Homo sapiens: one gene and its partners. The protein of the gene in region 4 interacts with the protein of the main gene of each other region in a pairwise test. Each region holds a gene or a part of one and is shown on either strand. Other genes may lie near its edges.

Region 1 (3,353 bases), on a different chromosome or scaffold from region 4:
CGCCCTGCCTGCCCGGCCCCACCGAGGCCTGAGCACGTTCCCGGGTGCCGAGCACTGCCTCCGGGCTTCCCCCAAGACCACGCTTAGCGGTGGCTTCTTCGTTGCTGTAATTGAACGGGTCGAGATGCCGACGTGAGTGAGTGGGGGCATGCTTGGGAGGCGCAGGATGGTACTGGCACATCTAACATCTACATTTCTCTAGCTCAGCCTCACAGGCCAAAGCATCAGCACCAGAACGCACACCCAGCCCAGCCCCAAAGAGAAAGAAGAGAGCAAAAAGCTGCAGCCGGTGCTTGCACACCGCCTTGCACATAGCAGAGGCTCCGGGCTCACTCCTTCCTGGTGGGAAAGGAAGATGCCTGTCCTCTCCGTGGAAGACCCTGGGCCCTCACCGCAGGCAGCAGTTTGCGTTTTGAAAGGTTATTGGGTCCCTTCCTCGGGCTGTGTTCTTGCTGGTGAGCAAAAGTGTTGCCTGCAGAAATAAAATGCAGAACGTACTCTACGATAGATCACAGTTTTTTATTCTTAATGTCACAAGCAGGAGAAAAATCTCACATTCATACTAAAAATTCCAACTAGACTCAACAGGAATGAAGTCTCTATTTGTAATGGAAAGTCCCAGCCTCCCGCTGCCGTCCAGTGCGTGTACTGTACACATCCACACTCATTCTCACTCAGGGTTCCCGGACCGGCTGTCCTGCCTGCGGAACTGAGGTAAACTAGCTCAGGTACTGACACTAGGAGGGTCTACCTTACATAAGGTACAGGTAGAAGCTTGATTGCTAGGCCCAGGCCCACCCAGACCCTCCAATCCTAACAGGTATTTAGGCTTGAGGTTCACTCCCTCCTCAGCTGCACACGCAGCCAGGTATTAACGAGGATCAGAGCTGTTCTGAGGGGTGGGAAGGAGCAGCCCCGCCACCACTCACTCACCCTCAGTCACATCGGGGAGGGGGCACCAGTTACATTTACATCACATTATTTATAAAATAAGAATTACATTTCATATAACATGGCCAGAAGGAGCTCTAGTCCCCCAGGAAAGCTGCCGGGGACAGCATTTGAGCCTCTTCTTTGCACAGGCATAACTTAACTATACAGCTAATTCCTAGTTAATAGCATTTATACTTAACCACCTCAATGAACCAAGCTTGAAGGAATTTAAAAGGCAATTTAGCTTAAATACAAAAATAAATTTTTGTTAAAAAACGTTTAAATATTTTTTTCTTTTAATTTAGACACACGCATTCATACTTCTCCCAAAGAGGTTGGGCGTGGCAGCAAGGCGCTTGGGCCTGGGGTATGTGGTTTCAGAAGGACGGAAGGAAAGGATGGGCTGCAGAGGGCCCTGTTTGGGAAAAATAGGATTTTAAAAATATGGTTCATTAATTTAGGTTTTCTAACATCTACTTTGGGTGATGTAGCCTCCAGTGAGGTCAGTTAAGTGGGACAGAAACGGCAGAGGGAAGAGGTCTTTGCTTCCCCTGGGCCCATTCTCCCTGGCTGCCAGCCCTTGAAGTCAGAACACCATGGGAAAATTCAGGAGTCGGCACTTGTAGCCGTCAAGTGGTGCTACTTTCCACATTCAATTAGCGAGGCCCCAGAAAACTTGAAACAGGAAGTCCGGCACTACCAACATGCCGCCACTCATACAACTCAACTCTTCCTCCAAACTCGATTCAAAGAGCAATACACAGAGCATCAGACAAAGGAACACAGGACAAGGCTTGAAACATACAATCCTGGAGAGGCAGACGAGGGCCCAATGGGGCCAAAGGGTAGCTGGGCGAGGAGGCAGCTGAAGCAGCGGTGGGCATCCTGCCTGCTCCAAGAGCTTCTCCCTTCACCCCTGGCTCTGCCAGGCTAACAGTCTTGAGCCACCAAGCTCTGAGGGGCCAAACTGGCAGAGGGTTGGAGATGAAACATTGATTCAGGCTTGGCAGGAAGAAAACGGCAGGAGCAGCACCCACTGGGGTCTCCAAGGCAAAGCTAGATTCAAGGGCATTTAAAAACGAAGGAATCCTGCAAGGAACTGGTGAGGGACACAGCAGCAAGAAATGGGGAAACAGAGTCCCCAGAAGGGACCAGAGGAAGAGAACCACTTCTCACAGCTAAGCCAAGCAAGATAAAGCTTTACGGATAGCCCATTTCCCAAATCCCATCAGGTGCACACCACCGATCCAGGCGGGCTGGACCCTGCCCCCTCCAGCGACGACGGTCTCGGGGAAAGGTGGAAGGGGCGCCTGCCTAAGGGTGTGCTAAGCGGGAGTCAGGGCAGCGGACACTATGTACAGGTGTTTCCTTAGTTCTCCAGCCTCCCCAGTAGAACTGTTCAAGTAGAGGTCCCGGGCTTTGGCCCTCCGCATCCTGCTTCCCCTTCCCTGAGGCTTGTGCTTCCTCCAGAAGGGAAAGGGCCCCAGGGCTGCCACTGCCCCCTGGCGGCTGAAGCCAGAGATCCGGGGTAGGTTTGCTTTACGCAACTGGAAGGGTCCAAGGCTCTTCCTAGCAGGTGCCAAGGTCCAGATTTAGGGAAGGGGTGGGGGGAACAGGGACAGGGGACAAAGGCTACTTTTTGCGGGTGTGCTGCCTTCGGGCCTGCAGTCGCTGTCGAGCCCCTGGGGTCTTGGATCCCGCACCAATGGAAAATGAAAGGGCCGCCGATCCTGGAAAGATTCAACAAGACCTCATCAGGGCAGCTGCTACCTGAGACTCTGACTCTGGGTGCCCAAATCTCTGGAAGGCCAGGCCAGTAATAAAACACAGGGTGCCTCAATAGGGCTTTCCCCGCTGCATCAGAAACACTGTACGGGAGAAGCCTCCTGAAATGCAAACTCCCAGAGAGTCTCAGAGCGAGGCCCAAGAATCCATTTTTACCTGGCTTCCCATGGGAGGCAAACTTCCACCCCGGACAGCTCCTCTCTGATCTCTGCCATCCAACTCCCATCCCTGGGTTGTGCTGGACTCCTAACCCGAAATGTCTTTCCTGTGCTGAACCTGATCTTCACCGGGCCTCAGAGGACCAGGAACCTGCCACCCCGCCCAACCCCTCCTCAGACAGATGAGCAGGGCCACAGGGTGGCTTGCTGCTTACCGAAAGGTGCAACACCAACAAAGCCTTGGGCGGGTGCTGAGGATGCCCCAAAGGAGAGGCTGCTGCCTGATGTGCCCACTCCAGGCGCAGGGGTGTTCAGACCAAAGGTGGGGGTGGCGGTGCCTGGAATGAAGAGAACAGAGAGCTGGCCAGTGAGCAGAGGGCAGAGGCAAGCGAGGAGCCGGGCAGGAGCCTGTGCTCCGCAGGGCACTTCCCACGGGACCCTCAGCCCCACTTCTGCTTCTGGGGCACTCCTCCATCA
Region 2 (3,500 bases), on a different chromosome or scaffold from region 4:
TTAGAGATACATACTGAAATGTTTATGGATAAACTTATATCATATCTGAGATTTGGTTTTTACAGGGTATTTTTTTTTTTTTTTTTTTTTGAGATGGAGTTTGGCTCTTGTTGCCCAGGCTGGAGTGCAATGGCGCGATCTCAGCTCATTGCAACCTTCGCCTCCCCGATTCAAGCCAATCTCCTGCCTCCGTCTTTCAAGTAACTGGAATTACAGGCAGGCTCCACCACGCCCAGCTAATTTTGCATTTTTAGTAGAGATGGGGTTTCACCATGTTGGTCAGGCTGGTCTTGAACTCCTGACCTCAGGATCCACCTGCTTCGGCCTCCCAAAGTGCTGGGATTACAGGTGTGAGCCACCACACCAGTTGAGATTAGCGTTTGAATATTTCAAAAGAAAAAAACAGAAGTCGCTGAAACAACAGCAACGGAATGTTGATAGTTGTGGAAGGTTGGTTATGGGTTCATGAGGTTTCATTATACTGTTATACTTTTGTATGTTTGACATTTTCCATAATACTTTTTTAAAGATAAAATTTGTAAGAAAAAAAGGATGCTTCTAAAATAGAACATGTGAAATTTGGAATGCTGTGTGGTAGTTTTCAACAAAACACTGCTTTCTCATCTCAGTATTTATTTCATCACTGAGTTCCTACATTAAATTGCATTGACATCAGTATAATGCCAAAGTACCAAGTTTCATGCTAAGAATAGCTTAAGAGCTATGCCAATATCTCTTTATAAGCAGTAAGAACAGTAGAGAGAGAAACATTCACGTTTATAAATAATAATTTTCATTCAAATCAAATTGTACCGTAAGGAATATGCCATTCTTTGGTTGGCCAACGCCATACATTGTTTTCCATTTTACTTAAAAATTTCTAAGTTAAAAATTAAACATGTTTCTTGTTTTAAAAAAAGGTCAGCTCAAACTAGTAAAGCACATAGATGCGTCCCATCACCACTCCACTTCCCTCCTTTTAAAATTTGTTTATAAGCCTTGGTACTTTAAAAAGAATGTTAGACTAGAATGTATAAATGAGTAGGAATGTTTATTCTTAACTAGCCCATTTGGGTGCTTGTTTTTAAGTACCTCAAGATGGTAAAATACAAAAGTATCAGGTAATTCACCCTTGCTTAATTGTTATTTTACTAGAGTTTTAAATGCCATTTATTCTTAGAATCCATCTTTTTAGTCCAAACTTCTTAGTTGAGCATTAAATACTCCCTTACAATCTGGTCCTTTCTCTCACTTATATAAACACTGTATTCCAAATTATTTTTTAATTTCCAAAATATCTTCTACTTATTTTAGGCTTTTGTTCATATGGTTAGACTCCTCTTAAGTGTCCTGTCTGCCTATTCTTTCCTTTCCTTAAGATACAACTTTATTCATCTCCAAAATGGAGAGAGTAAAAAAAATTTTAAAATAAAAGTAAAATAAACTTTTTTTAAAGATATAGCTTCAAATCCATCTCAGCTGATAAGGCTTCTTAGACCACAAGAGCTTGCTGTGAAATCGTGAATCATTTTCAATTCCAAATGATGAGGTGGCACTTTTCTTCTAATGAACTGTTATGTTAGATCTCTTGGAACTCTAAAGTTCTGTTACTCTGACTTTCTTTAATAAGTTTGTATGTGCTAAGGCATCAACTCTGTTTCTTATTCCCCTCTTACAACATCTAACATGGTTCATCTTTTATATCATTTTAGCCAGGCAAATTACCATCCATATGTGAAGTTTAATCTTTGAAGGGCAACAATAAGCATGTTAAATAACAGTATCTTTATTAGTATTTTCTAACATTGTTTGCGGACCTTGAAGTTAACTAATACCAGTATAAATTGAGTACCTCCTAGGTGCTTGGCGTTGAAAGATACAAAGCTGAATGAGACCCTGTTCCTGCCCTCAGAGACTTCATAATAATAGTCTCAAACTTGTCATAAATCTTATTTGTACTAAATAGCCATTTTGTGAATAACTTTATTTGATAAATCTTTCAAGTGGATAAAGGAACAAGAGATGTGTTTTTAACTCAGAATTCTTATTGAAGCAAAACCTTGCTCACCATCATTAAAATAAGAGCAAAGACTTTCTAAAAAGAATTTTTCAAATCAAATTACTTAGGGAGGGAGTTCATTTTAATTTTCTAACATTTCCTCTAAACTGATTATTAAAGTCATACTATGAAATTCGTGAACACCAGCTATTTTCTAAGGAATATAGTTCTTAAAATATAGTTTTGAGCTTGGCCTTGATCTCCCATTTATTTCAGCAAGTGTCATGGTGTGTCTAAGGATGTAAAGATGAATATGATGTTGCCGTTCAATAGCTCCTGTCAGACCCTCCCTGGAGTTTCAGTTTGGCCAAACAACTCTCTCAAGCACTTCTGAAATCCTATTTCTTTTACAGAATTCACACCGTGACAACTTCACCATGTTTCTTAAATTCTAATAAATAAAATATGTCACATTCGAAATCCATACATTTTCTTGTTATATAAAAACTCTACATGTTTAGTGTTACTTAAAACTGTTTTCACATCCTTTGGTGCTATTTGCATTACTTTAGTAAAATAGATAGAAGATAGTTTGTTAACCTGATGTTAAAATTTACACTTATGTACTACATGAGTAAGGTAATTAGAAAATCTATAAAACTCTTTTAAATTCATCATATTTCTTGAAAGAATTTTTTTTTTTTTTTTGAGACGGAGTCTCGCCCTGTTGCCCAGGCTGGAGTGCAGTGGCACGATCTTGGCTCACCGCAATCTCCGTTTCCCAGGTTCAAGCTATCCTCCTTCCTCAGCCCCTCTAGTAGCTGGGATTACAGACACGCGCCACCGTGCCCGGCTAAATTTTGTATTTTTAGTAGAGACGGGGTTTCACCATGTTGGCCAGGCTAGTCTCGAACTCCTGATCTCAGGTGATCCACCCGCCTCAGCCTCCCAAAGTGCTGGGATTACAGGCATGAGCCACCGTGCCTGGCCTTTCTTGAAAGTATTTTTAAGGTAATGACAGAGCTACAAATTAATCCTAAACTCTTAACCACACCCAACTGATGTACTCCTAGTTGCTTTGCTACTATATTTAAAATGATCAAACACCTAAGTCAATTACTTTAATATTCTTTGGAGACCAGCTTACTGAAAGAACCTCAACACAGTTAATATATTTGAAGCAAAACTCCAGCACAGTGAAGTAACAGTAATAACAGCTGAAATTCCTAAATGGGCCAAAGAGGAAAGTAAAGTAATGCAGCATGCACTAAACCAAGCGATACATATTTAAATAGTTATGAATGAGTTTAGAACAGTGGTTCTCAGTCTTGGCTGCACTTAAAATGCTTGGGGAATCTTTATAAATGCCAATATATGAGCTACACCCCAGTCCAATTAAATTAGAATCTTAGGGGTTGGATCAGACCAGACATCAGTGTTTTCTAAAGCTCCCTCAAGTAATTCTAAAGAACAGCCAAAATTGGGAACCAATGGAGAAAGA
Region 3 (3,500 bases), on a different chromosome or scaffold from region 4:
TCCGGGAGGCAGAGGTTGTAGTGAGCCAAGATCAGGCCACTGCACTCCAGTCTTGGTGACAGAACAAGACTCTGTCTCAAAAAAAAAAAAAAAAAAAAAAAAAAAAAAAAAAGAAAATGGGCAAGTACTGCAGGGAAAAGAAGAGTAACCAATACTGCGAGTTCCTACAGATTAGAACAGTGCTATCCCTAACAGAGGCCAAGACAGAGTAACCTCTTTCTCACACTGGGGGAAAGAACAGAAGAAAGAGGGCAGAGAAGTTTGTAAGTAGAGGAAGGGAAAGCTCAGGGAGTTCATGCCCTTTTTTCCTATGAGGTGGCAGGCAAGGTATTCTGCCAAGCATGGGGCAGTGACAGGTTTGAGTCAAGGGGTCCAGATTTTATAATAGCAACTGTGGAGAAATGGGGAGGGAGCTAAGCAGAACTGCTCCGACAGGGACCAAAGACAGATTTAAGGGAGACCTCGGACTACACATTAATTGTGGCACTAATCCCCAGCACTATGCAGGTTTCTCCATGACACGGAGTAAGAATGGAGGGTATGGATGGTAGGGATGATGTGAGGCTGGCTTCTGCATAGTAAGTCCTGAAGAATAATAAGAAAGAATAAAAACTGCAAGCAATGCAACCCAGAGGTCGTAGTATAGAAAAGGAAGGAAAAGAAGTAAAATCTGGAAGAGGCCGACGGTTTAGGAGACTTAGAGTGGGAGAACACACATAAAGTGATTATGAAAGTGAAAGCTATCAATTATCACAGTTTAAGACTTGAAGGTGAATTTGAGACCTTAACATGATGACAAGTTAAAAATGTGGCCATAACACTAAACAACTGGAACAGAATGAAGCCAATGTTTGCTTGAGCTCAATTCAAGAAATTTCACAGTTAACGGTAGTTACAAAGGAAACTCAGCATAGTGGTTACTTACTAGTACTTATGATTTTGGGGAAGTCACTTGGCCTGTTTTAGTTTCATCTGTAAAATGGGAATAACAGTATTTATTTCATATGGCTGCTATTAGGGTTAAATTAGTTAATAAACGTAAAGTGCTTAGAAAAAAGCCTGGCACACAGAAAGTGCTCAATATGAATAAGCTATTTTATCACTATTGTTGTTTCTGTTATTGTTTATTTACATAGTCATTGACATCTGCCAAGATGATGTCAAAAATCTGGATGAAAGAGAGAACTAAGCCAACAATATAGTAATCCAAAAGAGCAATGGGGCTGGGCACAGGGGCTCATGCCTTTAATCCTCCCACTTTGGAAGACTGAGGTGGATCACTTGAGCTCAGGAGTTCAAGACCAGGCTGGGCAATAGGCAATATAGTGAGACCTCCATCTCTACAAAAATTTAAAAATTAGCTGGGCATGGTAGCGCATGCCTGTGATCCCAGCTACTCAGGAGACTGAGATAGGAGGACCACTTGAGCCCAGGAGGTCAAGGCTGCAGTGAGCCATGACTGCGCCACTGCACTCCAGCCTGGGCAATAGAGTAAGAGCCTGTCTCAAGGGGAAAAAAACGGGCAATGGTAGAGGGTAGTATGGTTGAATGATATGCTTTGGTATAAACAATGTGATATTAAATACAAAAAATAGGCCGGGCACAGTGGCTCATGCCTGTAATCCCAGCACTTTGGGAGGCCAAGGTGGGTGGATCACCTGAGGTCGGGAGTTCGAGACCAGCCTGACCAACATGGAGAAACCCCTACTTTACTAAAAATACAAAATTAGCTGGGCGTGGTGGCACAGGCCTGTAATCCCAGCTACTAGGGAGGCTGAGGCAGGAGAACCGCTTGAACCTGGGAGGTGGAGGTTACGGTGAGCCGAGATCGCGCCGTTGCACTCCAGCCTGGGCAACAAGAGTGAAACTCCGTCTCAAAAAAAAAAAAAAAAAAAAATATATATATATATATATATATATATATATATATAAAATATATAAATTTTTAAATCCATCAAACATTTACAAGCTTGTGACTTCAAACACTATACAAAAAACCACAAGACAAATGTAAAAGTACCAATTGAGTATTAGATAATAAGTACAGTATTATGTACATACAACATTACAAAGAATTTTGAAAATGCTCTGACTGGAAATCACGGAAACCATATCAGGATACTAAATTGTACTAAAATGAAAAGGAGTTGGAGTTAACTTTATCTCACCATTTCTATATAGAAATGGTAGCCCAGGTGCAGTAGCTCATGCCTGTAATCCCAACACTTTGGGAGGCTGAGGTGGGTGGATCACAAGGTCAGGAGTTCGAGATCAGCCTGGCCAATACGGTGAAACCCCGTCTCTACTAAAAATACAAAAATTAGCTGGGCATGGTGGTGTGCACCTGTAGTCCCAGCTGCTCGGGAGGCTGAGGCAGGAGAATCACTTGAACCCAGGAGGTGGAGGTTGCAGTGAGCCAAGATCACACCACTACACTCCAGCCTGAGTGACAGAGTAAGACTCCATCCCAAAAAAAAAAAAGGGCAGGGCACGGTGGCTCATGCCTGTAATCCCAGCACTTTGGGAGGCCAAGGCAGGCGGATCAGAAGGTCAGGAGTTCGAGACCTGCCTGGCCAACATGGTGAAACCCCATCTCTACTAAAAATACAAAAATTAGCTGGGCATGGTGGCAGGTGCCTGTAATCCCAGCTACTTGGGAGGCTGAGGCAGGAGAATCATTTGAACCCGGGAGGCGGAGGTTGCAGTGAGCTGAGATCACACCAATGCACTCCAGCCTGGGTGACAGGGCGAGACTCTGTCTTAAAAAAAAAAAAGAAAGAAAGAAAGAAAGAAGTGGTAAAGTGTGAGTTCCTGGAAGGTAAAGAACTAAATCTCTACATGCACCCTCAGTTAATGGGTAATGCCTATAGTAAAAGAGCATCAATGAATCAGTGGCCCGTTAACCAAACAGTTCAACTCTGAGAAGTCCAAGGCATCTTTTTATTTTTAGCAGGCAAAGTCTGAGCCCAGAGTGGAGTGCAATGGCGCTGTCTTAGCTCACTGTAATCTCAAACTCAAGCCATCCTCCCCACTCAGCCTCCGAAGCACTAGGACTACAAACACACACCACCCACATCCAGATTTTTTTTTTTTTGGTAGAGATGGGGGTCCTGCTATGTTGTCCAAGCTTGTCTCAAACTCTTGATGTGAAGCAATCCTCCCGCCTCAGCCTCCCAAAGCACTGGGATTACAGATGTGAGCCACTGCATCCGGCCCAAGGCACCTTTTGCAGGTTTTTCCTACCACAGTCACATCTGTTTAATTTCTCTTCTATCCTGACAAGCTGCACAAAAAAAGTTCAAGAAGTATGCATATTTATTCACACTGTTTCACAGAATCCAGATATTCACCAGTACCTGTTCAAACGAGGCCATCTTTCAAAGAGAAATACATGAAATAGACATAAAATAACTTCAGAGCATTATGAAATTATATCATGTTAGTTTACAAGACCAAAAGGATATGCTTCCTCCTGGAAAAGATCTACTATGATTAGCAGC
Region 4 (3,495 bases):
CCACCCATGGCTGCCCATGGACCAATAGGCATGTACCTCCTCCCCTGTGAGACCCATAAAAAGCCCCTGACTCAGCCAGACCAGAAGAGACGATGGGACGACCAGCTGCGGGGAGGAGCTACCCTCTCTGCTGAGAGCTGGAGAGATGACAGGACAACCTGCCCACAGAGAGGAGCTACTCTAGCCAGGGAAGCAAGCAGGCATGCCAGCTCTTTCTTTTCCAGTATTCCTGGGCCCAGTGGGGTCTTCTCACTCAGTTACAATATTTGATCTAAGAACATTCACTTTCCAACTGATCAGAAAGTAAAGGTGACTGGCATGGTGTGGCTGTGAGAGATGCAGTGTGACCTCAGAGGTGAACATCAGTGCCGGGACCATTTGGAGCAGGATGTGGTAACCACCAAATGGAAACCACGGCCTTTTGGCTCGACCTAGAGCATGAATGTAGCAAAGCGAAGCCCTGTACACTTTATAAAAACCAGCAGAAAGACACTCCAGTCTGAGTGAGCAGCTGGAACAAAGCTCTGCTGAGCTGAACACTCAACAGGACTACCTGCCTGCAGAGAGAGGAGCTATCCTCTTTGCTGAGAGCTGAACACTCGTTGGGACACCCTGGCTGCGGAGAGGAGCTGCCCACTGTGGGTCTCCTCTGAGCTATCCTATGGCTCAGTAAAGCTCCTCTTTGTCTTGTTTACCCTCTGCTTGTCTGTGTGTACCTCATTCTTCCTGGATGCAGGACAAGAATTGGGACCTGCTGAGTGGCGGGGCTAAAAGAGCTGTAACATGAAGAGGACTGAACCATGCGTCTTGCTCGCCACATTGTGGGTGTCCAGAAGGAAAGAAGAACTGCGGCCCTTTGGGGAGTCCAGACCCAGGAGCTTCCCAAGCTGGGGTTCTGACACCCTCTTTAGGGCTCTGCGGTTCCTGGTATCTGCAAGCTTCCAGGCACCACCATGCTTCCCAGTGTCAGCTGTGGAAGCTGCTTATGGTACACCTGGTCTAGCTGCAGCCTTGCAGGAAACCAGCACCTGTGTTGGCACCTGAAGCTGCCTGCCCCACCGCAGCCCACATGCCTAGCTGTGCGCAGTGGCCAAACCCCACACTCATTCGCTCACACACCCCTCGCTGCCCCACTCGCCCTTGGCAGGTGTGGGATCCAGGCCGGTAGCATGAGCTGAGCACAGCCTGCAGGGCCGAGTGGGCCCAATGGGCCCGAGCAAAACAGGCAAAGGCATCACTGGCCACAGAGGTTTCCAGCTGGTAAAGCAACACCCCAAAGATCCCGTGACAGTTTATGGCTGCGGTGAGCTATTATTGCGTCACTGCACTTCAGCCTGGGCAACAGAGCAAGACTCTGTCTCTTAATCTCAGCGAGTACAACAGGAAGATGTACTGAGCCCCAGACCACCCCATCTCTCAAGGTGACTGCTTGGATGGGCTGGCGTGACTGGGAAGGCCTTTGCCACTTTGCTGTCTCCTGGATTCCATATCTACTGGATGGGTGCCATCTTGCCTCTAGCCAGGGAAGCAAGCAGGCACACCAACTCTTTCCTTTCCAGTATTCCTGGGCCCAGTGGGGTCTTCTCACTCAGTTACAATATTTGATCTAAGAACATTCACTTTCCAACTGATCAGAAAGTAAAGGTGACTGGCATGGTGTTGCTGTGAGAGGTGCAGCGTAACCTCAGAGGTGAACATCAGTGCTGGGACCATTTGGAGCAGCATGTGGTAACCACCAAATGGGAACCACGGCCTTCTGGCTCGACCTAGAGCATGAATGTAGCAAAGCGAAGCCCTGTACACTTTATAAAAACCAGTAGAAAGACACTCCAGTCTGAGTGAGCAGCTGGAACAAAGGTACCACCTGAATAGAGGGTGTGTGGCAAGGGCAGGCACGAGACAGGAAATCAGACTGGAAGAGTAGGTTGGGCCTGGTCATGCGTGCCAAGGCAGGCAGCATTCTCTAAGGAGCAGTGGTAAGCCATCAAGGCATTTGTTACTAGGGGTGTGACAATATGAGATTGTATTTTCAGAAGATGACTGGGGCTATGATGATGAATGCTTTGGGTGGGAGTGGAATTAAGCCAGAGAAACCAGCTAGTTCACTACTGCAACCATCCAGCCAGGATACTGGAGACTTTTATTCAACATTAGGCAAATACTTGCTGAGCACATGCTATGTGCTAGGTACTGTTCTAGGTCCCAGGGGTGCATCAGTGAACAGACAACTGTCTCTGCCCTTGTGGAGTTCACATTCTAGCAAGGGTGAAAGAATGATAAACAGTTTATGTAGGTGAAATACATATATATATATATATATATATTTTTTTTTTTTTTTTTTTTTTTTGAGATAAAGTCTTGCTCTGTCACCCAGGCTGGAGTGCAGTGGCACGATGATAGCTCATTGCAGCCTCTACCTCTTGGACTCAAGTGATCCTCTGGCTTCAGCCTCTAGCGTAGCTAGGAGTATAGGTGCATGCCACCATGTCCAGTTAATTTTTAATTTTTTTGTAGAGATGGGGTCTCCCTACGTTGCCAAGGCTGGTCTTGACCTCCCGGCCTCAGCAATCCTCCTGCCTCTGCCTCCCAAAGTGCTGGGATTACAGACATGAGCCACCACGTCTAGCCCTAAAATATATAGCATGTCAGATGGTGATGAATGCTAACGAGAAAAAATACGGAAAGGGATATAAAGATTTGCAGCAGGGGGACAGATTATAAATTTAGAAAGTATAGTCAGAGAAGGAAGTCTTATCAATGTGATATTTGAGTGAGGACCCAAAGGAGGTAGCTGGAATGTGGATGCCAGTGGAGGAGAGGAGACGGTGGGTTTGAGAGACATAGGAGACAGAATCAACAGGACTCAGAGCCAATCAGTAGGATGACGGGAGTGAAGGAGAAAGCTGAGTCAAAAAGATTTTGATTAGAGGTGACACAGGGCCACTGTAGACCCCTGCGCAGGCGGCACACCACGCAGCCTGCCGAAGTGTACGTGGTGGCCCTGGGTGTCTGGAGATGGTGATGCTGTTCAGCAGGACCCAAACCATAGCCGAGCCCTTCCTTTTCCTCCATTGGTGTCATCTGGTAGTTTGTCTTCCCGGGTAAGAAGGTTGTAAATTTCTTAAGATGATGATTGTGTCATCCCTGATAGCCCCAGATTAGCCAAGCCAAGTGCTGAGCACATTCCTGGTGCTCAGTAAATGTCACTGTTAAAGGGGGCTTCCCAGAGCCACACAACACCCAGAATAGCCCGTGGCCATGGGGCCTCAGCCTTACTCATTCTGGAGCTCCCAATGCCACTTCCATGGTGGCCTTTCCTGGTAGATGCTAGGAGGCTGGCCTCTCCAGGGTGGGAAGGCATAGGGTCCACTGTGCAGACACAGCCCCACAGGGGATTTGGCTTATGGGCTGGGTAGCAGCCTCTGGCCCTGTGGACGGTCAGGGCCCATGCTGGTGTGTGTGCGTGATGCTTTCTGCTTTCATTTTTCCGTCCTC

What was found. The genes of interacting proteins can lie anywhere in the genome.
Region 1: the proteins of JMJD7 (region 4) and POM121 interact in binary tests that used the Homo sapiens proteins (3 or more experiments, as listed by UniProt).
Region 2: the proteins of JMJD7 (region 4) and SH3GLB1 interact in binary tests that used the Homo sapiens proteins (3 or more experiments, as listed by UniProt).
Region 3: the proteins of JMJD7 (region 4) and KIF1B interact in binary tests that used the Homo sapiens proteins (3 or more experiments, as listed by UniProt).

The regions. Positions count from the first base shown.
Region 1 is NC_000007.14:72,945,447-72,948,799, reverse strand, and holds the end of POM121 (nuclear envelope pore membrane protein POM 121), read right to left. Parts: intron 3,215-3,353; coding exon 3,092-3,214; intron 2,664-3,091; coding exon 2,566-2,663; 3' UTR 501-2,565; downstream 1-500. UniProt on the Homo sapiens protein: Essential component of the nuclear pore complex (NPC). The repeat-containing domain may be involved in anchoring components of the pore complex to the pore membrane. When overexpressed in cells induces the formation of cytoplasmic annulate lamellae (AL).
Region 2 is NC_000001.11:86,707,576-86,711,075, forward strand, and holds part of SH3GLB1 (endophilin-B1), read left to right. Parts: intron 1-3,500. UniProt on the Homo sapiens protein: May be required for normal outer mitochondrial membrane dynamics. Required for coatomer-mediated retrograde transport in certain cells. May recruit other proteins to membranes with high curvature. May promote membrane fusion.
Region 3 is NC_000001.11:10,213,570-10,217,069, reverse strand, and holds part of KIF1B (kinesin-like protein KIF1B), read right to left. Parts: intron 1-3,500. UniProt on the Homo sapiens protein: Has a plus-end-directed microtubule motor activity and functions as a motor for transport of vesicles and organelles along microtubules.
Region 4 is NC_000015.10:41,831,092-41,834,586, forward strand, and holds part of JMJD7 (bifunctional peptidase and (3S)-lysyl hydroxylase JMJD7), read left to right. Parts: intron 1-3,495. UniProt on the Homo sapiens protein: Bifunctional enzyme that acts both as an endopeptidase and 2-oxoglutarate-dependent monooxygenase.